Linked DNA regions of Homo sapiens. The protein of the gene in region 3 purifies or fractionates together with the protein of the main gene of each other region. This does not show direct contact. Each region holds a gene or a part of one and is shown on either strand. Other genes may lie near its edges. The genes, in order: VSIG1, OCRL, GOSR1, GDPD5, STX18, PKP1 and NSF.

The links.
Region 1: the proteins of GOSR1 (region 3) and VSIG1 purify together in Homo sapiens (co-immunoprecipitation; one large-scale study listed by IntAct). This does not show direct contact.
Region 2: the proteins of GOSR1 (region 3) and OCRL purify together in Homo sapiens (co-immunoprecipitation; one large-scale study listed by IntAct). This does not show direct contact.
Region 4: the proteins of GOSR1 (region 3) and GDPD5 purify together in Homo sapiens (co-immunoprecipitation; one large-scale study listed by IntAct). This does not show direct contact.
Region 5: the proteins of GOSR1 (region 3) and STX18 purify together in Homo sapiens (affinity purification with mass spectrometry; one large-scale study listed by BioGRID and IntAct). This does not show direct contact.
Region 6: the proteins of GOSR1 (region 3) and PKP1 purify together in Homo sapiens (affinity purification with mass spectrometry; one large-scale study listed by BioGRID and IntAct). This does not show direct contact.
Region 7: the proteins of GOSR1 (region 3) and NSF purify together in Homo sapiens (affinity purification with mass spectrometry; 2 studies listed by BioGRID and IntAct, with this or other methods). This does not show direct contact.

The regions. Positions count from the first base shown.
Region 1 is NC_000023.11:108,062,065-108,065,564, forward strand, and holds part of VSIG1 (V-set and immunoglobulin domain-containing protein 1 isoform 2 precursor), read left to right. Parts: intron 1-2,645; coding exon of another isoform or gene 2,646-2,723; intron 2,724-3,500.
Region 2 is NC_000023.11:129,546,759-129,550,258, forward strand, and holds part of OCRL (inositol polyphosphate 5-phosphatase OCRL), read left to right. Parts: intron 1-1,804; coding exon 1,805-1,843; intron 1,844-3,500. UniProt on the Homo sapiens protein: Catalyzes the hydrolysis of the 5-position phosphate of phosphatidylinositol 4,5-bisphosphate (PtdIns(4,5)P2) and phosphatidylinositol-3,4,5-bisphosphate (PtdIns(3,4,5)P3), with the greatest catalytic activity towards PtdIns(4,5)P2.
Region 3 is NC_000017.11:30,525,250-30,528,092, reverse strand, and holds the end of GOSR1 (Golgi SNAP receptor complex member 1), read right to left. Parts: 3' UTR 501-2,843; downstream 1-500. UniProt on the Homo sapiens protein: Involved in transport from the ER to the Golgi apparatus as well as in intra-Golgi transport. It belongs to a super-family of proteins called t-SNAREs or soluble NSF (N-ethylmaleimide-sensitive factor) attachment protein receptor.
Region 4 is NC_000011.10:75,519,442-75,522,941, reverse strand, and holds part of GDPD5 (glycerophosphodiester phosphodiesterase domain-containing protein 5), read left to right. Parts: intron 1-1,084; exon of another isoform or gene 1,085-3,500. UniProt on the Homo sapiens protein: Glycerophosphodiester phosphodiesterase that promotes neurite formation and drives spinal motor neuron differentiation.
Region 5 is NC_000004.12:4,437,549-4,441,048, reverse strand, and holds part of STX18 (syntaxin-18), read left to right. Parts: intron 1-2,539; coding exon 2,540-2,655; intron 2,656-3,500. UniProt on the Homo sapiens protein: Syntaxin that may be involved in targeting and fusion of Golgi-derived retrograde transport vesicles with the ER.
Region 6 is NC_000001.11:201,318,006-201,321,505, reverse strand, and holds part of PKP1 (plakophilin-1), read right to left. Parts: intron 2,889-3,500; coding exon 2,711-2,888; intron 1,691-2,710; coding exon of another isoform or gene 1,628-1,690; intron 1,240-1,627; coding exon 1,125-1,239; intron 1-1,124. UniProt on the Homo sapiens protein: A component of desmosome cell-cell junctions which are required for positive regulation of cellular adhesion.
Region 7 is NC_000017.11:46,695,169-46,698,668, forward strand, and holds part of NSF (vesicle-fusing ATPase), read left to right. Parts: intron 1-3,500.

The DNA.
Region 1 (3,500 bases), on a different chromosome or scaffold from region 3:
GGCAGGCTAACATGGAAATTTGGGGTGGTCTGGTGCCTTTCTGGTCACACAGATGGCTTCATCTTCCATCCAGTCTGTTAATGCTAACACTACAGAGACCCCACCTGTCCCTGAACAGACCATGCCTTGACTCTGCTTAGCATGAATCTCTCAGACAATACTTATTCTTCAAGAATGTTCATAGTGAAAAAATACCCTTTGCCAGTCTCATAAACAACTTAGACAACTTCTTTCCCAGGACCTAGTGTTCTTATGTTCTCTGGCTTCTCAGGTTTTACAACCTGAAATACACAGGACAGAGCCACACAATAAAGAGTTGTCTGCCCAAAATGCCAGTGTCACCCCTACTGAGAAATACTGCAAGTTCTTCCCCACCCCACCATCAAATTTATGTATTGTGTCCCATTCACTTTCTGCTAAATCTGATAAATTAATCTCATGGTAAGGTGTTAGGGACTAGCGAAAGCTTATTTTATTCTCTTCTAAAGAATGCATTGAATGGGACCTTCCATGCCTTCTTCCAAAAGGAGCAACTCAAATGGCAGATACCCAGGCAAATGGAGGGTTGGTAAGAGAGTTGGTTTGGAAGCAAGAGAGTCTTTCTTTTGGTATCCCATTCCTTCCACATGCCATCCCTGCACCACAATACAGTCCAAATAAAATTCTGAGCTTGTGACCATTGCCACCTTATACCTGCACACCCCTTCCCTATCCTATGGCTAGCCCCTCTATCAGCAGTACAAGAAAGCAAGAAGCTGGAAAGGAAAGAATGGGTGGTTTGCTGTGGATGTCCATGTCCTCCACCTTCCCAGAAGGAATCTGCAAAAGCAGCTCTGGAAGCTAACTCCAACTCAGATTCAAACAGAAAGCAGACTGAATTCTTTCAACCCTTCTTGTTTATACTCCATGCTTCTAGTTAGAGAGCAGTGTCACTAAGCTGAGGAAAAAGTCTTTTAGGACAAATCTGGTTCCCAGCTGCACGGCCTTGTGTGAATAGGAACTTGGCACAGTAGGAAGGGAAAGGTTGCTCTGCAAAGAACTGAGGGGCCTACAATTGCAGCTGGCAAATATTGAGGGCATCATGTGGTGAACATACTCAGCATGGGAAGCATCATGCCAATAAATAGCAACAATTGGCAGGAGAAAGGTTGGGCTGGAGCAGGGAATGGAATGGTCCCAAAAGGAGAAGGTTGCCCAGGAATCATCTTTCTCATCTTAAGAAGCACTGTGAGTGCCATCTTAATATATTCAGTGGGAATCAGAAGGTCTGAATTCCAGGTCTGACTGTAAATTGTGTGACCTTGGGAAAATGGCTCCCTCTATTGAGGCCTCGGTGTCCTTTTTTTGTATTAGAAAAGGATGAATTCGAGTTTACTAACCGCAGGCCTCTGGGTCAGATTTGGCCAGTGGATGTATTTCAGTCGGCCTGCCCAGTATTTTGTTTGTTTGTTTCAACAGTTCGAATGCCTTGTTTGCGTTGACTTTTCCGTTCCCTGCAGTCCCCATATCTGTTATGAGCTTACCACTACTTACCAGCCCCTCCCAGCCATTTCCCATATTTCCAATATCCATCGGGCTCCTGAAGGCCCCTTAACCTTAGAAACCACAAACCAAACTATCTCACAGAGGTCTTATAATTAATGTGCAATTATGACTCCACCCATCAGCCTCTAGCGTCACCCTGGGGGCAGGCAGAGAGGACCTTGGGAGAAAGCAGGGCAGTCTACCATGAACCCAAGCACAAAGTGCAGGTGGGTAAAAAATTAACAAGCGCCCCTTAAGGGAACACTGGGATGGATTTCCTTAAAAAAATCACCTCCTCCCCACCTCCACCCAAAGATGTGGCCCATTGTACATCCGGGGCTTTTTCTGGATCTCCATTGCTTTGACGTCTAAATTGATAATATTCTTTCTTTGAAAAGTGTACAAGCCACACAGGATCATGGGCCAGGCTTTGGCCACTGTTCAGCTTTGATTTTTAAAAGAGTTATTCTTTTATGGAAAGTGGAATCAAGTTGTAGCCCTTCCTATATGATTAGATAAGCAGTTTCAGGAAAACACTTCTTTCTTTTTTTCTTTACAAGGACAGTGTGACTGTGTGGACTTCCCCTTAACAGAAAGCCCCTCCATGTATGTGTCTGGCTGCTGCTGTCTACCCCTAGGTACTTTACTTCTTACAGAGAACTGTGAAGCCAAAGCCTTGGCTCTTTTAGGTCTCCATTGTTAGCCCTCACTACCCCCATTTCTGTCTCTAATACCTTTTAGTGTCAATCGTGAGAGGGCAAAATGTATTAGACTACAGCATGAGGAGCTAGCATGTAAGAGGTAGTAAAGGTCTTTTTCATGGGTAAGGTTCCAGGGCCTCATTGCTTATATACTCATTTCACCTTGACTCATGCCCAACTATGGGACTTTTACAGTGGGCATGGACACATGGATACAGTGGACACTTTTACTTCTTCTCATATCCTAATTCTGGCCTAAAACACACCATTTTGGCCTCAAGATCTCTGCAGAAATAAGGTCCTTTTCACCTGGATCCTCTGGGACTTGCTGTGGGCCTCAGGCGTGACTGATGTTGTATCTCATTGTGATGTCATCAAGCATCAGTATAAAACAGGGCTGATGTTTTACACTGTCCACAGTCTCCTTGGGAGGAGGGGAAGTGGCCAGATGTTGAGGCTGTGAAGGGCACTCTTGATGGACAGCAGGCTGAACTCCAGGTAAGAAACAACAAGACCTCAAACTGTCAATTAGAAAGTAAATAAGCCCCATGCTGCCTAGTGAAATTGAAAGCCTGATAGCGTGGGTGCCAACTCAAATGAAAGTAATCCTCTGATGTATTGAACCTCCTTCTGTCCCACTTGAATACCTGGAGTTAATCCTGGCTTTCTGGTTTGGAAGTCAAACAAGACCATTCTGGGGCAAGAGTTTGTGATTTCAGTAGGTGTGAATGAATGAATTATAAATGGCTGCATTTATAATGCAAGCAAGAAAACACGTTGATGTTAGAAAAAACGGGAGAGAAACAAATAGTTTTCTCTGTAAATGTACTCTTTTCCTGGGATTTTTCCCTCAAAATCCAGCTTTCTGCCTTAGTTTTAAAATATATTGACTTTCTGCTTAAAGGAGAATACATTTGAATTCATCTAGACAATATCTTTTGGTTTTCTAATTGCTTTCCCTCTTTTATTGGCCTGTTAAGGTAAAGCCCACAGTACAAGGAATTAGGAAAATTGGATTCCAGATCTGTCTCAACCGTCAATTTTGCCTTTTATTTTTTAACCTCTCTGGGCTTTGGTTTCTTCTGTAAACTGAGGGAAGTGAATTAAATGAACTGTAAGGCCTTCCAGTAGATTTTATGAAAAATTAGTCTCACCAGACTAAGACAATACAGTTTATTGAACAATAACAATCACTTGAATAATATACATTTACATGAAACCAACAAAACATGTACATAGAAGGTGTGTATTATGAAGGGACCTCAGGAATTACCT
Region 2 (3,500 bases), on a different chromosome or scaffold from region 3:
TCTCTTAGTATTTTTAATAAGAAATCAATTGCTGATTGTTAGATCGTAGTGCTGCTTCTTAGAACCTGGGAAAATATGTGCACACATGTAACGTAGTTCCCCATGACTAAAGGAAGACTTACTTTTGATTTTCATCTCCTTTCTATTTCCTGACCCCTGCATCTATTTTGTAAACTGTGGCCAGGCGCGATGGCTTGCACCTGTAATCCCAACATTTTGGGAAGCTGAGGCAGGAGGATTGCTTGAGCCCAGGGGTTCAAGACCAGCCTGGGCAACATTGCGAGACCCCATCTGTACAAAAATAAAATTAAAAAAACAACATTTGCCAGACGTGGTGGCAGATACATGTAGTCCCAGCTACTTGGGAGGCTGAAGCAGGAGGGTTGCTTGAGCCCAGCAGTTCGAGGCTGCAGTGAGCTGTGATTGTGCCACTGCATGCTAACCTGGGTGAGAGAGTGAGGCCATCTCTAAAGAAAAAGAAAACCGGCTGGGCGCGGTGGCTCAGGCCTGTAATCCCAGCACTTTGGGAGGCCAAGGTGGGCAGATCACAAGGTCAGGAGATTGAGACCATCCTGGCTAACACGATGAAACCCCGTCTCTACTAAAAATACAAAAAATTAGCCGGGCATGGTGGCGGGTGCCTGTAGTCCCAACTACTCGGGAGGCTGAGGCAGGAGAATGGTGTGAACCTGGGAGGCGGAGCTTGCAGTGAGCCGAGATCGTGCCACTGCACTCCAGCCTGGGTGACAGAGCAAGACTCCGTCTCAAAAAAAAAAAAAAAAAAAGAAAAAGAAAACCATCTGTAAACACTCAGGTTTTACAGAACTAAAAGTTAATGAAGAACAGTAGTAAGCATACAATATCTATGTCTTGATGCCCTAATTCCCCTTGTTTAATCATCCTAATAATAATATCGAGACTACTTTTTAGTGTTAAAGGAGTTAGTTCCTTGCCAGTTGCTTCTGTTGTACCTGAGTAATGGAGCCAAATAAACAATTCAGTCTTGGGAGGGAGGTGAAAAAGGTGAGACTACTCCATTTGACCAAGGTAGATCCAGGCTAATCCCAAGGAGTCAGTACCCAGAGTTCAATTAGCCAGGAGGGTCTGGCAGGTGCACTTGGTCAAATCCAGAGAAATCAGAGGGGAAGAGATAGGTTGGGTCTAGACACTTGTTGTAAAGGAAGAAGTCCAGGAGAACCATTGAGAGATAAGAGAAATCCAAACTTGCAGACTGCTTTGCACCCTGTTTGGTACGGAGGGCCTTGGGCCCACAGGTAGTAGTTGTAACCTGAAGGTATACTCTGCCCCCATGTGTGGGGCAGGGGCAGAGGTGATGAGATCACTGGGAAATTTTCAGAGAATAGATCTGAGTTAAGAAAGTAATTCACCTCTGGGCTTTCAGGGTCACTTCCTTTGCCTTCTGTTATCTAAAGAAGTATCTAAAGGACCCAGAGTTAAATCATTATGTTACAGTTAAGGGGAATTAAACTTGCTTTCGCTGAATTAACATGTTGTTATGTTCTGTACTATTAATTTCTCATTCGTTGATTTGCTTTGAGGAGTTCCATTTGGTTACTTCTTCAGTTCATTTTTATTTTAGTTGATTTGCTCATAGTCTTTAGAACCCAGTGCTATAAAAAATCCCTTTAAAAAATATTAAACGAAAAGGGATTTAAAAAAATATGTTCTAAGACCTAGGAGTAGTGACTGAGAGAAGCAGTTATTTAGTTAGGCATGTATTCTTTTGGTTGTAGTGAGTGGTTTTCTCTTCCCTAATCCTACTCTCTTTTTTTTCCCCTCTCAGAAGCAGAAGAAACTCTTTTGATTGACATAGCTTCTAACAGTGAGTATCTTTCTGAATGTGCTTGATTTTTACTCAACAAATATTTACTTGAACACTCACTACATTTAAGACACCTTTTGGGGCACATTTTTTATTTTACCATCTTTTCCTGTAGTCTCCTGTAGCAGCCATACAAATTAGCACTGTTTCCCAAAAACATGTAGGCTAAGCCTAAGAAAAAGCAGGTGGCTGGTAAGAATCTTTATAAAAATAAAAAATAATGATCTACCTTTCTAATGCTGAACTTCCGTGAGCTACCAGTATTGTTGCTGTCAGTTGAATCATTGCTGTAGAATTGATAATTGTAGGAAGGGCTGATGTTTAAAGCACATAAGGTTTATTGGTGGAGTTTTTTTGGTCATTTTTTAACTGCTATTACATTTTAAGTTTTTTCCCTACCCTCTTTTTAAATTTTGTGTGTTAAGTCATAATATTTTCCTTTATTTGTTGTATTTTTTTGGAAGGCTGAAGAGTCCCTTAAATTGCTTGTCCAGGCATTCCTTTAAAAAAAAAAGTTTAGTCTTTTATTTAAGCCCCATCCCCTCAAGGCATCTCTTTATTAGAGGGAACATGATCTTCTTTTCAATGTTTCCATTCTCTCATTTTTATCTGTTTGAAGCAAATCATCTTTGACTTTCTGTGCAAACTGTTCTTTGTTTATCATCTAATTGTACTATTTTATGGAGTGGAGAAAATGGGCACTCGATGCTACTGTGAGGTTGCTATGGAAAAGAGTATCTGACCACATGAATCTAAATCAAATGGGTTGCCTTATCTCTTGGTTGAGTCCTTGGATGAGTGGGAACTGGCACTGAGCTTGGGACTAGGGGTTTACATAACTTTGTTTAGACAGTCCCTGCCCTTGGCACTATTAATTTGTATTGAACACTTTAAGTAGGCTTTTTTTCTGGCTTGAGTTTTTTTTTTTTTCCCTTTGGTCGTGAATTTTAGAAGTCTTAAAGGCTGTGCCTGAAAGGCCAGGTAAACCCCAGCTGCAAGTATCCAAGAGAGAAAATAACTTAATGTCTATTTCTTATTGTGCTTAGAAAGGAGAAGGCAAAAACAACACTTAAAAAAGCAAAACTAGAACAAAAGCAATTCCATAACAACTGACACTGCTGCTGAAATAAGAGATGGAAATGTCCTGTATTTGATGTGGAGAAGTATTTGATTCAAAGCTGAAAAGTTAAACTGAGCTGTGCCTTTTCTCTTATAAGCACCTAATTTTCGGCATTAGTTTTGTTGTGGCCGCTTCTACATTAGCCATGTGTTGCTATGTCCAGAGTTCTAGTTACTGGCTCATAGGGGGAAAATAGGTAAGTGACCACTTGAATAAAATCCTTTGTTATTTCTACCCATTTAGTAGTATTTGCACTGAAACCATATTTTATCTTGATCCTTGGGCTTCATACATAAACCTTTATGGTACACGGTGTGTTGCAGGAAGGAGATCTTGGGTTTGTTAGGCAGGCCTGATTTTAATGTAAATATGCATTTTCCCATTGTCTGGATATTGGTGTTAAATGCTTTGTAAATAATTTTTTCTCACAGAAGTAATACATCTTCATTATATACAATTTACTAATTCAGAAAAGCTTAAAGTATCAAATTAAGATTATTTTCCTGCAATCTAGAGATCACCACTGTGGTTAACATT
Region 3 (2,843 bases):
TTACTGGTAGGCACGGGCATTGGCACAATTGCTTTGGAAAAATGTCTGACAACATATCTTAAAACTGAGTATGTGCATCACCTATAATCCAACAATCTTATTCCTAGGTATAAGCAACAGAAAAGTGTACATGTGTGTCCCAAAACCCATGTTCGAGAATGTCCAGAGCAGCACAATTTGTAATAGTTCCAAACTAAAAATAAAAGCTATCGGTCTAGAATGGAATGACTAAATAGAATGTGTGTACTTATAGAGCGTGGTTCTCCACCTCTGGCATGCATCAGAACCGCTTGGAGGCTGGTTAAACTGATTGCTGGGTTCCACCTGTCTATCTACACAGAACCGACCTTATATTTCCCCGCTCAGCTGCCTTTATCAAAATTAAGGATGTCTGCTGATCACCTCTTGAATGTTCTCTCCTCTCCCACATCAGCAAGAGGGAAAAAAAGAGGCAAAAGAGGCCCGGTTTCTCGCTATTAGGACAAACCCAAGGATATCTCTTATGTCAGGTGAGCCCTGTACCCCTGGCTTTGCTGAGATGCTTATGAGCATTTCCTCACATAACCCTGACAATATAATCAGGGCACAATTATGGTAGCCATCCTTATCACCATTTTATAGAAGAGGAATTGATCACTGGCTGGATTAATTGCAAAGCTCTAAAATTAGACAGTGGGGCTGGTTGCACAACTAATGTACTAAAGCCCAGCAGTACACGATTTTTAAAAAATTAATTTATTTTTGAGACAGGGTCTCTGTCACCCAGGCTGGAGTACAGTGGCACAATCGTTGCTTACTGCAGCCTTGACCTCCTGGGCTCATGATCCTCCTACCTCAGCCTTCCGAGTAGCTGGGACTATAGGTGCACACCATCATGAATGGCTAATTTTAGTTTTTGTAGAGACAAGGTCTTTGCTGTGTTGCCCAGACTGGTCTCAAATCCCTGGTCTCAAGCAATCCTCCTGCCTCGGCCTCTCGAACTGCTGGGATTACAGGTGTTAGCCACTGCACCCAGCCAATTCTACAATTGTAGATTCCCATTATGCCTCCTGAAGTTTCATGTTAAGAGATTCCCCTTCACTTCTAGGGCTAAAATACTAGTGGACTGTTCATATGATGGTTTCTGAATGACATGTGACAGCTTTTCAGCACCTGTATTATTTCATCCTGGGTTTCAGGACATCATGAGAAACACTTATCAACACCAGAGATACCATAATCTCTATCCCCAAACTACCTTGATGGTTACTGTTTCAATATAAACAATTACAAATGCAATCATTTAGATTTCTAATTTATTATTAAATTACATACCAAAGCTTCTTCTATACAGTCAGAAAATGCACATTTAGATGAGAACAAAAATTAAGTACAAATACAATAAAATTGGTTCCAAGAAGCTATTTTAAAAGCAAAAACTTACAAAGTGCATTTGGAAAACAATAGGTTTTAAAAATCTGTATTGGCATTTTTTCAAGAGGAAACATCTTCCATCACAGGAAAGTATGGTTGGAATTGATTTCCCTCCTCCCTTAAGAGCTAACAGGGTGGGAATGGATGCAAATACCTTGATATTAAAGTGAGCTCTCAGGTATCTTTTAATTTTTTTTGCAGAGACAGAGTCTTGCTACATTGCCCAGGCTGGTCTCAAACTCCTGGCCTCAAACGATCCGCCTGCCTTGGTCTCCCAAAGTGCTAAGATTACAGGCGTGAGCCACTGCACCCAGCCCTATTGTCATGGTTTTTCATATTTTTTCAGTGAAATGAAAAGTTTTGAGTGGTTACTTAAAAGGACCAAAAAGGAAAGATTCATTATAATAAGACAATAGTTGAGGGGGCATAACTTCCCCTAAGAGGTAACATTTGGATCCAGAAGTAGAAAATTCCTTCTGACCTCCTGGCTGTGACTAGCATTAACAAGTAACTAACTGTTAGCCTCTGAATCTGGTAACTGGTCCGTAAGGAGGACAGCAAAAAAGGAGAGAAAGCCAAGGTGGTTAAACAAAAAAGTTAAATGACATGGAGCTGAAAGAGCTCAAATCCCTTCATGGGATCCCCACGGAGCCCCTTCCTGTGGACACACACCTCTCTTCCCTTGCTGGAGGTTTCTTTCTGCAAAGAAACCCTAAGAGGAAAAAGCACTGGCCTAGCTGTCTACATGTGGCCCTGGGTCACCTTAGTATAGGCTGCAGCACGGAGAGGTTAGTCAGACCTATCTGACACCAACATCCATACCAAGCCTTTTAACTTCCTTGGAAGAACTGGTTTATTTTCATAAAGAAAATAACCAACATAATTCCATTACTTCACATAAGCAAAACCCTAATGGAAAGGCCCATCAGCCATCAACAGGGTTTGCTTGGCTGCAGTGAGCTAGACTAGCTTGTGTCCCAGTTCACTCTCACACAATCAGCTTTAATGAATGCACAAAAGAATCAGACCAGTAAAAAAGACTGGTAGTATAATTAAATAAATAACTTTATTTATGATACTTCAGATTTTATAAATGCCAACTACATAGCAAAGTCCCATAAATTTTAACCGAGACACAACCACCAATCAAGGCCCTTTGAAAAATCAAAGATAATAAAGTGTCAAGGGAGAAAAGTTTTGTTCTCCCAACAGAGAATTTAATCAATGAACTTACTTCTCTGATCATTTAAGGTTCACAATGGGAAAACTTCTTTTCTTTTAAGGGTACCCTGAATCAATTAACAGTCAATCAACCCACATTTAGAAAAATAAACCCCATAGTTAAGAAAAATATATCAAATGCCCTTCACACCCATAATGTAACAAAACTTTGACACCAGAATGAAAAACTTCTCAGTCTCTGTACCAAA
Region 4 (3,500 bases), on a different chromosome or scaffold from region 3:
GAATCAGTCTGCTTGGGGACACCGGCAAGGGGCTCTGGATTCTTACCCCCTCCCTTGGCTTCCTGCTGGCAGGGCTGTGGTGCCTGGAGCTGGTGTCCATTCCCTCGGGCCCATTGTCTGACCTCCCTAGGCACCAAGGTGCAGTGAATAATTAATACTCCCCTCAGCTGGGGGCAGGCTCAGGGAAATAGCTCTATGTTCAGTGAGCTTCTGAACCCTACCAGAGGAGGTGGGGGCTCCTGTCTGTGCTGTTAGCAGTCTTGGATATGGGGGGGCAGGCAGGATAGGACAGGGAGAAAGTGTCATCTGGCCCCCAACAGGAGAGAGCTGGGGTTGATGATGTCCTGTCTCTTCTGTTGGGGGCCAGATGGTCCCACAGGCAACACTGGGAACCAAGCTAGCTGAGCTAGGATCAAGTGGGCCTCTGATTCCAGAGAGGTGGTGACGGGGAGGAGTAAGGGGGAGGGTACAGGGCAGAAAGGGGTGGAGGGGAGGCCCTTGAGGACTGGAGTAACCAGGAAGGCTTTGTCAGGGAGGTGGCTGTCTGGGCAGGAGCTAGAGGAAACTTGCTGCAAAGACGGGGGGTCCTGACATCCCTCCAAGAAGGAATCCTGGCTGTGCCACCGCCTCACTGAGAGCATGGGAAAGACACATGATCCCATCAGGCCTCCATTTCCCCCTTTGTGAAATGACGGTTGTGATGTCCACTTCTCAAGGCTGTTAAGGATCATCTTGAGGTCCCATGTGTGAAACACACGGCACTTTAGGCACTCAACAAGGGGGTGCCTCATCATGAGTGTGAGCTAGTGGGCTAGTGGCGGGGCAGGTGGGATAGCGTGGTAAGCCGAGAGGTAGGGAGAACTTGGGGCGAGGAGGATGGCTTGGTGGGGTTAGTGAGGGGTGAATGCCCATATAGGAGAGGGCCTTGAATGTTAGACAGAACTCACATTTCAGAAAGCTTAATGGAGCCCCCATTTAGAAGCCTCTGTGGCTCCTTACGGCCTGTAAGATGAAGACCAGGCCCTAGTTATGGCATTCAGGTCCTTGGTCACCTTAGCCTCTGCCCGGCCTTCTGGCTCATTGCTCTGCACTGTCTCCTAAACACACCACATGTGGCCCCATCACAGCCCCTTTGTTTGTGGTTCCTCCCATCAGAACCGCCATCCCTGCCTCTGCTCCACTTACCTCCCCACCTGTCAAGACCTGACTGAGGTCATAAATTCCCTCAGAAACATTCCTGGATTACCCAACCCTCTGGTCATGCCCCCTCTGAATCTTTAACATTCAGCAGTAATAGTAAAAAATAATACCTACTATCCATAACATTTTGCAGTTTGTAAAATGTATCCACACAATACTACAGTGATGATATCAACAACAGCTGATATCTTGAGTACTTACTATGAGCCAGACAATGTGCTAAATGTTTTATAGACACTCTTGTTCACACAAACTCCCTGAGGTAGCTACTGTTATCCCCTAGAAACTGGGGCTCAGAGAGGTACCTGATCTTGCCCGAGGTCACACAGCTCAAAGGTAGGGAGCAGGGAGCCAAGCTGCATCTGTTTGAATTGTAAATCTGTGCTTAGAAGATGTCCTGTCTCCTCACCTCCACCCAAGTACCTTGAAAGCATACTTTGTGTGTAAAAAGCCTGGACAAGGTTTTTTCTCAAGGCTAAGGAAGGGCAGTGTTGGACTGAGCATGGGGCCCAGGAAGGACCTGGGCCCTAGGCCGTGCACAGGCTGGCTGGTTGTCTGTGTGACCTGGGGTGAGTCGGCCCCTCTCTGGGGTCCCGTGTGTCCATGTCTATGGGGAGCAGGGTGGGTTCTGAGCTCCCCTGTAGCTCCAGCTTTCTACATCGTCTTTCGTGACCCTGGAGGGAGGAGGAGGAGACCACAGCACCAGGGCCAGAGGATGTGGTATGACGGGCAGCTGTGATTTTTGGCCTGGCCACTGTCTGGGCCAGCAGGCTGTGTGGGTAGCTGCCTCGCCCAAAGGAGGGTGGTGGCCTGAGCTGCAGGCAGCATGGTCATTAGCTGGCAGAGGAGACCCTGTGATTGGGAACTGGCTGGGCCAGGCCAGGCCAAGTTGGCGGGACTGGAGGCAGGCTGGCCGGGCCACAGCGGGGTCACTGGCAGGGCAGCCAGCTTCTCCTCCCTTTGCCCCCTTTGGGGTGGTGGCAAACACACACTGGGCACCAGAGCTTTGTAGGCCAAGGCTTACCCTTTCTCCTGCTGTGACCATGGGAAAGAGCAGTAAGGAGTTCAACCAGGTCCAAAGATGCTGCCTGCTATAAGCTTCCAGTACTCCTCCCATGCAGGTGGGATCCAAGCCTCCTCTGCTGCTGATTCATGGCCCTCTGCACACTGACTGTGGTCTGTGGATTGGGGTTCTGCTTGGTCTGCTTCCCTTGCTGGCTTGTCAAAACTAGATTCTATGTGCCCCCACCGAATCCTCCCCTCCCTCTGAGTGCCTAGCAGTGTGCCTGGCACAGAGCCACACCCTCCGGGCCAGGGGAGGCAGTGCAAGCTGCCCCATGGACAACTTGCTCAACTTTTGCACCTCTGTTTTTTCCCTGTACATTGGGGCTGATAATAACTGTTATTAAATGAGATGAAGGAAGTGGGGTGCCTGTCCAGGCCTGGCACACAGGTGGGTACTCCATCAGCATGAGTCTTCTTGCCCATCCCCTCGATGGCTTCGTGAACGAGCAACTCAGTAAGAAGCTGATGGAAGAGTCCAGTGAGTGATGGCTGGAGGGAGGGCGTGCCAGATGGCAGGGAGGCCTTCCCTTAGGGGGACTTAGCTGGGGTTTGCAGATTCACAGTTCCCACCACCTTCCCTGTGAACAGTGGTGTGTAAGCAGGTGCTGTTGGCCTGGAAGGGTCCCGAGCTAGGTTCAGGGGAGGGAGCAGGACTGGGATATCTGGGGACTTGGGTTTTCTTCTCAGGCCTACGCAGAAGAAATGACCCAGGTGGGAGAAGCCGTCTGGCGTCCAGCTAGCAGATGCTGGGCAGAGAGTGTGAGTTCTTCCTTAAAGGGAAGCAGCATTTATTTGGTGCTGCTCACACACACATCCAACCGAAATGTAACATGGTTGGAGATTCTGGTCTGTGGGGGAAACAGCATTAGACAAGGAAACACACAGATGCAAAACTTCCAAATTGTGAGAAGCAGGCTCCTGAGGCAGGGGCCGGTCCCATCAGTATCTGTGGCTGGTGGCACAGGGTAGGGCTAAATGACTTGGGCAAGTGATTTAACCTCTTTGGGCTTTAGTTTCCCCATATGTAAAATGGGGATAATTACAGCATCTTCATCATAGAGTTGTGAGGGTGAAATGAATTATACGTGTAAAGCACTCAAAAAAATGCCCAGCACATAATGAGCACTCAGTGCAGGTTAGCTGTTATGATCTGTATCTCCAGCACCTCACAGAGGATCTTAGAGAAAACAGGTGCTCAGGAAAGGCGTTTGGAATGAATCCCAGGCAAAGGGCAG
Region 5 (3,500 bases), on a different chromosome or scaffold from region 3:
ATGAGGCTCCCAGCAAGCACCAACTTGCTAGCCATGTGTGTGGCCTCCTTGGAAGTGAACCCTCCAGCCCTGGTCAGCCCTTCAGATGACTGCAGCCCTAGTTGCCTTCTAACTGCACCCTCCTGAGACACACAGAGCCAGAACCACCCAGCCAAGGTGTTCCCAAATTCCTGACCCCAGAAGCAGTGATCAGTAATAAATCTCACTGTTTCAAGGCACTAAGTTTTATGACTCAGCTGTAGTAACCAGAACAATTAAAAAGATTGATAACAGTGACTTTTGAAAAAATTTTTTGTTAAATTTTGTAGAGGACCATTTCCTAAATAGTCTTTTTGAGAAAACTGCTCTCAAAAAACTCTGTGAAGAGAGTGTCTGCAATCAGGTTATTTGCAAATACCATCCTTTTTGGAAATTCAAAATGTATTTGAGCATATTAAAGGCTCTGAAAACTTATATAGTGAAACACCTTTCTAGCTTTGACTCAGCTTTCTCAGACTGATTCGACCACAGAAGTCCTTTCCCACAGCCCAGGATGGGTAGAATATACCCCACATGGAGCAGTTGTTACGAGCATGGGCTTCAGAGCTAGGTTCCCTGAGGTCATGTCCCAGCCCAGCCATTTGCTGACTGTGACCTGGGCAAGTTTCCTAACTTCTCTACACCTCAGTTTCCTCCTTTGTTAAAAGGTTGTTAATACTAGTACCTACCTGATGGGGATATTCGAAATTAAATAAATTTATCCATACAAATTGCTTAGAAAAAATGTCCACTATATGAGCCATTAACAAATGTTAGCTGGCATTAGTAATATCACCCTAATATGCATTTACATTGTTCCTTTAATTACAGTCTCTCTGCCTAACAATATGGAATTTATCCTAGATAGCACTCTGCCTATAATTTTATAGCATTTATGTAGATTCTAGTAAAGCTATTACAAAGCCTGTTATTGCATAACCTAAACGTTTTCTTATTAACCAGTTACTTGTATTTATAATGCACTCATTCATTCAACATATATTTATGCAATGGAATACCAGGCACTAATCCAGAATCTGGGATCTAGGAGCAAGGCTGACAACCAACAGATAAATAAACAGGGGGATTATAGACTGTGATAACTGCTATGGAGAAAACAGATGCAGAGGAGTGGGAGGCGGCCTTTCCTTCACAGAAGAGTCAGAGGTGGCCTCTCTGAGTAGGTGAAATTGAGCTGAGCCCTGTAGATGGGAAGGAAGACGATGCCCTGGGAAGAGCCCGTGGGGAAGAAACAGGGGAATGCCAAGTGCAGAGGACTCAGTCCTGAAACAAGTCTGTGCCTTCAAGTGGGTATTTAAGGACTTGTGCTTTCAGAGCTAACTTATATTAAGATGTGACTTAGAACATATACGTGTGTGGGTATAGGTATATATATGTGTGTGTATGAGTATATATGTTGGGGGGTATGTGTGTGGGGGTGTGTGTGTGTATATATATGGGTAGGGGGTATATATGTGTGTGTTTCTGTGTGTGTATGTGGGAGTATATGTGTATGTATATGTGGGGGTATATATGAGTGTGTGTGTGTATGTATATATGTGTATGTAGATATATGTGTGTGGGGGAGGGTATATGTGGGGGGTATATATACATATCTGCACATATATGGTGTGTGTGTGTATGTAGGGGGTATATATGTGAGTGGGGGGTATATATATGTAGTATATGTATGTGGGTGTGTATATATGGTATGTGTATATGTGTGGGTATGTGTGTGTATATATGTGTGTGTGTTTATGTGGGTGAGTATATGTGAATATATGTATGTGGTGTGTGTGTATATGTGGGGGATATACATGCATGTATGTATATATATGGGGTATGTGTGTATGTAGGGGGTTATATATGTGTGGGGGGTATATATATGTGGTATATATATTGTGTGTATACATGTGGGGGTATGTGTGTGGGGGTATATGTGTGGTGGTATATATGTGTGTGGGTATATATGTGGGAGGGTATGTATATATGTGTGCATGGGTATATATATGTGGTATATATGTGTGTGTGTGGTGTGTGTATATGTGTGGGTATACATGTGTTGGGGGTATATATGTGTGTGGGGGTATATATATATATATGAATATATGTATAATATGTATTATATATTATTATTAATAACATACTCAGCAATCTTTTTGCATTAGTGTCAACTACTGGGTAAGCATCAATCCAGCTTCCTGGGTTTGTTGAGTGCGGTGTGTCAGTCTATGGAGCGTATTCAGCACATACCAACTGCAGCCTCCCCCTGCATGCTGGTCACTGTGCCGTGGCTGCAAATGCAGAGGGCATGCACAATCTCTACCCTGCAGGCAATAATGCCAGTGTTAAGTGCCCCAGTGGAGGTGTGTCCGGATGGCCACTGGGCCCAGAGGCAGTGACTGCTCCCCAGTACAGGGACACAGAGCAAAAGCGCAGGGTCACATGTGACTCCTTCTGTTTTCAAAAAGGAATCCTGTTATGGAAATAAAATACCTGCCTGCTAATTATTTATTTTTAGATCTAAGCTGGAACCAGAACCAAATACAAAGACAAGAGAATCCACATCTTCTGAGAAAGTTTCACAGAGTCCTTCAAAAGACTCTGAAGAAAACCCTGCCACTGAAGAACGTCCAGGTACGAATTGAGATGAAAATCTCACCTTGCATTTCTTCCTTGTGACATGTTGGCAAGAGTACAGCACAGGAACGAAGTAGCACAGTCTCAGACATGTTTTGGTGTTTGTATTTGCATAAAGCAAAGGAAGCAGGAGGCGGCAGCCTTTGTGTCTGTCACAGTTGATCTTCGTGAGTGCCACAGAGGCAGGGGGTGCATTCACCCAGTCACCTGGGAGCTGGCGGGGTCCGGGAGAAAGGGCCTGCTGGAGGGGTGAGGCCGGGAGCTGTCTGCCTCAGGAGCCCTGTGTGCCGGCCTCAGGAGAGGCAGCATTGCCTCCCTGGCAGCCATGCCCTGCATGTCAGCTCTGAGCTGCCAGGCCTGCATCCGGGTAGAGTGTATAACCTCAGCAGCCTTGCACAGCCAGTCAAACCAACAGGACAAAATGCAAATCTGAATTGACGTGCTGCCTATCACCACAGATACTAGAGGGCCCATGGCTTAGAATAGTTCCTGATGCACAGGAGATGCAGAAGAAATACAGGGTCTCCATGAAGTCCGAAAATGTAGGGGGACATACACAGTGTGGTCATGGATGTCTGCGATCTGTGTGTCTGGCTGGTACCCCTGCGTAGGGATGCCTGCATAGTTTGCCATATCTCAAAGGCAGAGTGGAGCAGGGTTCTTTGTGTGAATCACAGGGTGATGGCGTGCTGGAGCCAGGAGAGACCTGGGAGTCCCCTTTAGCATCCTTCTCCGTAGTCTCATGGCAGTTCTTATTAACTCTTGTCTTCCAGATGCTAGGCATGGTCCTGGACATGTCACAGAAATTACAGGTTGAGTATCTCTTATCTGAAATGCTTGGG
Region 6 (3,500 bases), on a different chromosome or scaffold from region 3:
CTTTCTTCCTGGGGCCAGTCCTTAGCTGTCAATGTCAGCGGTGCTAAGTCCACACAAAACACAGCAACACCTGGAGCCCAGGGCTTCATCATGGCAGCTGGGCTCAGATCTTTGTCAATCTCCTTTGGCAAACCTCCAAAGGACTAGGGTTTGGGGGCAGCAGATTTACCCTCCTAATGATGTTTGGCCCTTGCTGGGGTCTAAGGGAATCTGACTTCCAGGGCTTGGGGTTACACAGGTGTTGGAGATATTGCACACAGAGCAGAAAAGCATCTTGCCCTTTGGAAGCAGGCTGAGCAGCCCAGTGACAAGGCTCTCCTCTGTGGCCCTGCTGTTGCTTCCAGTGGAGGGAGCAGGAGATAAAATCCCTCCTTACGGCAACTGTGCTGAGAACCCAGGTGCTGTGATGTCAGCCCGTTCCCTGGCGATCTGGAGCCTGCTGGGCCTCACTATCTCCTGAGCCACTGTCCTGCCATGGTGGGAACATCTCAGCCTTCTGTTTATCTGCCCTCCACAACTTTTTTTCTTTCTGTTTGTCTGTGCTGTGTGTCCAGAAGTCCAGAGAGGGCAGCAAGATGACTGCCAATGGCTTTTCTGGGAGGCAGTGGGAAGATAGCAGTGGCAGAAGGAGCCTCATCTCAGGGGGGACACTAAGCCCTGGGGGCACCAGTATGGATTCCTCTGGGCTGTGGGGCAGGGCTCGGGGTCACAGGACAGGCCTCAGCACCACCAATGAAGCACAGCCAGCAGATGCTCGCTGGGAGCTTCCTCTGTGCCAGGCCCTCTTCGTGTTTTGCTTATTAACTAATCAAGCCTTTCAGACAACCCTTGAGGTTGATATGATTATGACCCTTTCCATTAGAGTGAAGAGTGAACCGGGAAACAGAGAGATTAGGGAAGCAGCTGCATCTACTCCACTTCTAAGTGAGGGAGAGTGGATTTGCATGGGCACGCTGTCCCCAGAGCCCACTCCTGTAGCCACCACTGAGCCCTGCATCCAGATGCCTCTTCTACCACCCCTGAGTCTGTGCTCCTGTCTTGTCACTGGGCCAGGCCTCAAAGGCACCCAGAAAATGTAGGGGGCTGGGCCTAGGGGTCAGGGTGCCACCAGGGGATGCACTCACCTTGTCGTCACAGCGGCTGGCCGCTACACAGTTCTGGACATAGGCCATGAGGGAATCAATGAGCCCTGAGTAGTTACGCATGGTCTGGCGGCCTGCATCGGCCGAGCTCAGGTTCCTGGGGGAGAGAAGAGGGTGGAAGAGGGCAGAGAAAGGGGGAAGAGAGAACGGGGAAGGTGGGGACAAGAGAGTGTGGTGGGGGACAGGCAGGAGAGAGAACAGGCAGGAGAGGGGAGGGCAGAGAGGAGACGACGGGGTGGAGATTGGAAGTTGTGGTAGAAGGAAGGAAGGAGAAGAGGAAAGGGAGGAAAGGAATGAAGAGAGGAAAAGATGAAAACGGAAGGAAAGAGAAACCATTTAGCCAATTCCGCCTGGCCCTGGCTGAGGCTGAAATGAGGTCTCATTTGCACTCAGTTCTTCTCCTCCTTCACTCTGCCCAGTAACTTTATAACTGGCAATGGCTCCATGTGGCAACGGTCCCTCCGCAGCTGCATCCCAAGGCTCACACCCTGCTACTAGTGGCCCTTTGCGGAACAAGAGCCAGAAGCTCCCGCATGCCCAGTCTCTTTCTGTGGGACAGGAAGAAGCCCTGTTGATGCTGGATCAGAAGTGGATCTGGGGGTGGCCGGGCTGGGCACCAGAAGCTCCCTCTCCACCCAAGCTGTGTTCTGCCCCCAGCAGTAGGCTCACTCCCAAGCAATGTGGGCTCATCCCCAAGCAATGTGGGCTCATCAGCCTGGTGCAGGTGGGGTGTGGCTGCTGTTGCTACCAGTAGCACATCAACCCCATAAAACTCTTAATTATCCTCACTTTTCATCTCCCCAGCCTCTCTGCTTCCTGGAGGCTGCTACCGGAGGCTGGCAGGGAGAAACACAAGTTGAGACACAGAGGCACATGCCAGCTGCACCCACCACTCTGGGGGGATTCTCAGGAGTTGGGAAAGACAAATCCCATTAAAGCAAGACAAACCCCATTAAAGACCCTAAAAGGGATCCTGCTCCAGGGTTCCAAGCCCTGTACCAGCCGCCCCTCCACACCCACCCATTTCGCCAGCTTGTAAACCACTGCTTCTAGAACAAGCCCTCCCACCAGCCCCACAGGGGCTTTGCCACACCCTGGTATGGAACTTAGGCAACTTTGGGTGAAGCAGTGCCATCTTCATGCCAATGAACATGGCAAATGGTTTTAACACCACAGCTGGGAAGTGACTCATTAGCAACCCATCGGTAGACTTTTGTCTAAAAGAACACTCTTCAAGATGATAGCACAAGAAATGCATTTTTTTTCATGGGGTGGAGGAGGGAAATGGTTGAACCAGTTTGGATATTCAGATCTAGGCATTTTCAAGCTCAGATTTCTGACTAATGTCCGCTGCATTCTCTCAAAGGGGGTGGTAGGGTCCTGGGCCTTATCCAGTTCCAGGGAAGTTAGGAAGGCCTGAGTCCCTGTGTCTTGGAGCCTGCCCATAAGAGGGAGTGCCGGGTTGTCTGTTATGTTCTATGCACCGGCTGAATGTTGGCTGAGATGGGGCTGCCTGGGGAAGGGCCCAAGGCTGGGACAAAAAGACCCCATGTATCCTCTTCTCTCACCTCAAGCAGCCTGTGGCATTGAAGAAGACCTCAGGGTCCACCACTTCCCGGGACATGTTGCTATTGCCATCGCACCAGCCAGAGAAGGGAATGATGACGCGGTCGGCCAGAACAGGCAGGGCGTCGGCAATGAGTTCCTCCTTCAGCTCGTCAGTGGAAGACAGGTTCCAGAGCAGCCCTGGGGGTCAGAGACCATCAACCCAATTTGTGCCAGGCTCAGGATGCCCTAGGGACCGAGGTAACAGCCCCAGCCTGGACTCTGGCAAATGGGCCCTACTGAAATGTCGCTTTCCAGGTAGCCCTGGTCTGTAGAACCTATTGTCTGTCTGTGTCATGAGGCTATTTCTCAATGCCCCAACCAGACTGAAGGTTCTTTGCAGGCAGGGAACATCTCAGAGTTCTCTGTCAAGGCCAAAATTATGCATGTGGAAAGTGATCAAAAAACGTTTGATTGATCAGTGGTTTTTAGTATAAATTTTAGCACTTGGAGTCTTCTAACGCTGTCTCTTTTCCATCTGAAAGTTATGCCAGAAATACTTATCAGTCATTACTCTGTACATGGTCTGATCTTCCCAGCCCAATTCTAGGTCTTCACGGTGACCTCTTCCTCTTGTGCCCCCCACCTTGAGTGCCTACCATATTTCTTGAACACAGGGTAGGTGCTTAAGGCCTGTTAACCCCTTCTCCCCTCAGTCTTACTCTCTTTCCATCACCTGGGAATCCCAGGGCTTGTGGAATATGGATCTTGCCTGGACATCAGCCTTCCTCCTTTTGCTCTTTAACCTCAAAA
Region 7 (3,500 bases), about 16 Mb from region 3:
CCAGGAGGCAGAGCTTGAAGTGAGCTGAGATTGCGCCACTGCACTCCAGCCTGGGTGACAGAGCGAGATTCCGTCTCCAAAAAAAAAAAAAAAGTTGTAATATGTCAGAGGAAGTGGGAGTTTCCACGTACTAGAATTTTGGGGGCTGCTTTATTCAGCAAATATATTGAATAGTTGATGTGTTCAAGCTATTGGGCTGGAGACATAAAGATAATTGTGAACTCTTCCCTCAAGGAGTTCAGAGTCAGGAAAATGGACATATTTTCAAATTAGTACAATAATATTGTAGTTACCATGGTAGAAATACGTACTAGGATACTTTTATTTTGATAAAGTGCTCTTGATCTTCCATCTCTTCTCTCCTTTAGGTTTTAGTTACCACCTGTAGACAGATTTACTGAACATATCTGTCTCCTACTTTCAGATTTGTACTAAATACCCTCACCTAGATGTTTTATCAGGTCTCAGATTTAATATTGCAAAACCAAATTTATTGTCTTTTTTACTACTTTCCTTTCTGCTCGCATTTCCCTGTTTATCCCAATTTCCCAGGCTTAAAACATCAGGATTATCTTTGATTCCTGGCACTCTACTGTGCCCTAGGTCAAGTCACTTGCCAAATTTTTTCAGTTCTGTCTTGGCAGTGCCTTTTAGTTCTCACTGCCACTACCCACCTTCTCTTTGATTAACCTTCCTGTATCATATCATTCAACCATTCAGACACTTTCAGTGATTCCCCATCATTTACAAAACAAAGTACAGGCTTCTTTTGGGTCTTTTGGGTCCTCTAGATCTGACCCTAACTGGCCTTTCCAAATGTGCTCCTGATTATTCTCCACATACTTCAGCCAAACTTAAATAATCACCGGTCATCAGACATTAATTTATTTTTCAACATCTCTGCTTTGGTTTTGTTTTTTTTGCATCACTGAGGATCTTCATCCTCTACGTTTACCTGTCTTTTCAAAACCTGGCTCATATGCTACCACTGTCCTCACACCTTTTCACATTTTCCCTTTCAAGAATGTTATACCCGTTTCCTTCTTGAAATAGTAATGTATCATTTATGGTACTGTCAGTTGACTTTGGTTCACAGTAGATTTATTCGGCATCTACTGCATGCTAGACCCTGTGCTAGGAGTTAATACCCCGACTGCAAAGAAGTAAAGTACCTACCATTAAGCTGCCCTCAGTCTAACCCTCCACGTGCAGTAACAGAAAGTACATGCAAGGCAAGAGAGTGAACTCATGTCAGATATGGTCAACTTGTGGGGTGAGAGAAACCTTCATATGCATGTCTGTTGGTAGAGCAGGGCCTTTTAGGTAGAGGGAACAACATATGCAAAGAAGCAGAGACACAGAATAGCATAGTGCGTTGGAGTAGTTTAGTATTGCTTCAGCATGGAAGTTAGGGGAGGGATGGTAGAGAGATTGTGGGGGATAAGTCAGGAGACTAAAGTAGGGATGGAGCACAAAGAGCCTTTTATACTCTGCTAAGAAGTATGGACTTTTTTTCTGTGAGTAGTGCTAAGCCATTGAGTTTTAAGAATAGCAGTGACATAGTGTTAAAACATAAGATCACTCTGGCAGCTCTGTCGAGTGGAGTAGTTAGAGGAGTGGAGTTGGCGACACAGGACAAGAGGGGGAGCTTTTATAACAGTTCAGGCAAGAAATAAAAGCCTGAACAGTTAGGTTGAGTATGTAGATATTTGGGTATATCCTATCACTGGTTCTAGACCAGGAATCCAGCCAACTACCAGTTTTTATAAATAAAGGGCTTTTTTGGAACAGTACACATTAATTTGTGTACTGTCTATGGCTGCCTGCATGCTACAGTGGCAGAGTTGAGTATTTGCAATAGGGGCTGCATGGCCCACAAAGCCTATTTTAGTGCTTTTATTTTAGGTACTATCTGCCACTTTACAGAAGTTTGCTGGCCCTTGTTCTAGACTTTAAATCCTTATCTTATTCACCTCAGAGTCTCCCATAGTACCCCAGATAGATCTAAATAATGAGCACATGGTAGGTGTCCAGTAAATTATTTTTCTTTTTTTTTTTTTGAAACAGAGTCTTACTCTGTCGCCCAGGCTGGAGTGCAGTGGCACAGTCTTCGCTCACTGCAACCTCTGCCTCCTGGGTTCAAGTGATTCTCCTGCCTCAGCCTCCCAAGTAGCTGGGACTACAGGCATGTGCCACCACGCCCAGCTAATTTTTTGTATCTTTAGTAGAGATGGGTTTTCACCATGTTGGCCAGGCTGGTCTCAAACCCCTGACCTCGTGATCCGCCCGCCTCAGCCTCCCAAAATGTTGGGATTACAGGTGTGAGCCACCATGCCCAGCCAATATTTTTTAAATGAGTAAACTTACGTAACTATTCTGAATCACGCTCTATCCATAAGTCATAATTTCCCTACATAATAGAGGTGGATTTGTTCTAGCTCAAGAATGCCAAAGGTTTGGATGGTGTGGGAATATTGTATTGGGTCTTTATATAATGGATCCATTCAGGGACTATGTTTTTATTCTTCCTTGTTTGTTTGTTTTGAGACGGAGTCTCACTCTGTCGCCCAGGCTGGAGTGCAGTGGTGCAATCTCGGCTCACTGCAAGCTCCACCTTCCAGGTTCAGCCATTCTCCTGCCTCAGCCTCCCAAGTAGCTGGGACTACAGGCACCCACCATCACGCCTGGCTAAGTTTTTGTATTTTTAGTTGAGATGGGATCACCGTGTTAGCCAGGATGGTCTCGATCTCCTGACCTCGTGATCCGCCTGCCTCGGCCTCCCAAAGTTTTGGGATTACAGGCGTGAGCCACCATGCCCGGCCATGCTATACTGTTTTAATAAGAAGAGATGGCAACTTCAAGAAAAATGATGTAAACAGTGTGAAAACTGGTCCCTACCATACTGATCTTTCATCTCAGACCACATGGGTGCATCTTGATGTAATCCACAGTAACTAGTTTACTAGTTGTCATATTTTTCATATGTGTTGGCCATGGAATTTTTCTCTTATTTAGTCATCTGTCATTTTAACTACAATAATCCTATCCCAAAATTTCACTTTAAGCCGTTGTCTCAGTAAGAAACATGCTTTCTTCAAGCATATATTGGGTTTATCTACATATGAGGCAATGAGGGATGGTGGGAAGATCGCAGATATCGTAGTCAGAAGGTGTGGTTATGCATTATATTTCTTCCACCTTTTTGTTTCTGACCTGTCAAGGGGAGACACTACCTATCTAATCAGATTTTTATGAGAATGAAAGCAAATACTTTATATAAAAGTGCCTTGTAAACTCTATAAATGCTAGTTATCTCCATTTTTTTAATTGGCTGATTTGAGAGGATATCAGTACTTTTCAATATATGAATTTCTGATTTTTATTGACTCTTTGTAGTTACACATTTTCTAATTGTAAAGCTAAAATGTTTGTCACCCTTGTACATAATATATTATCCTTCTGATTTGCAAGTAAGCAGTAGTGCAAATAGTTCATGTTTC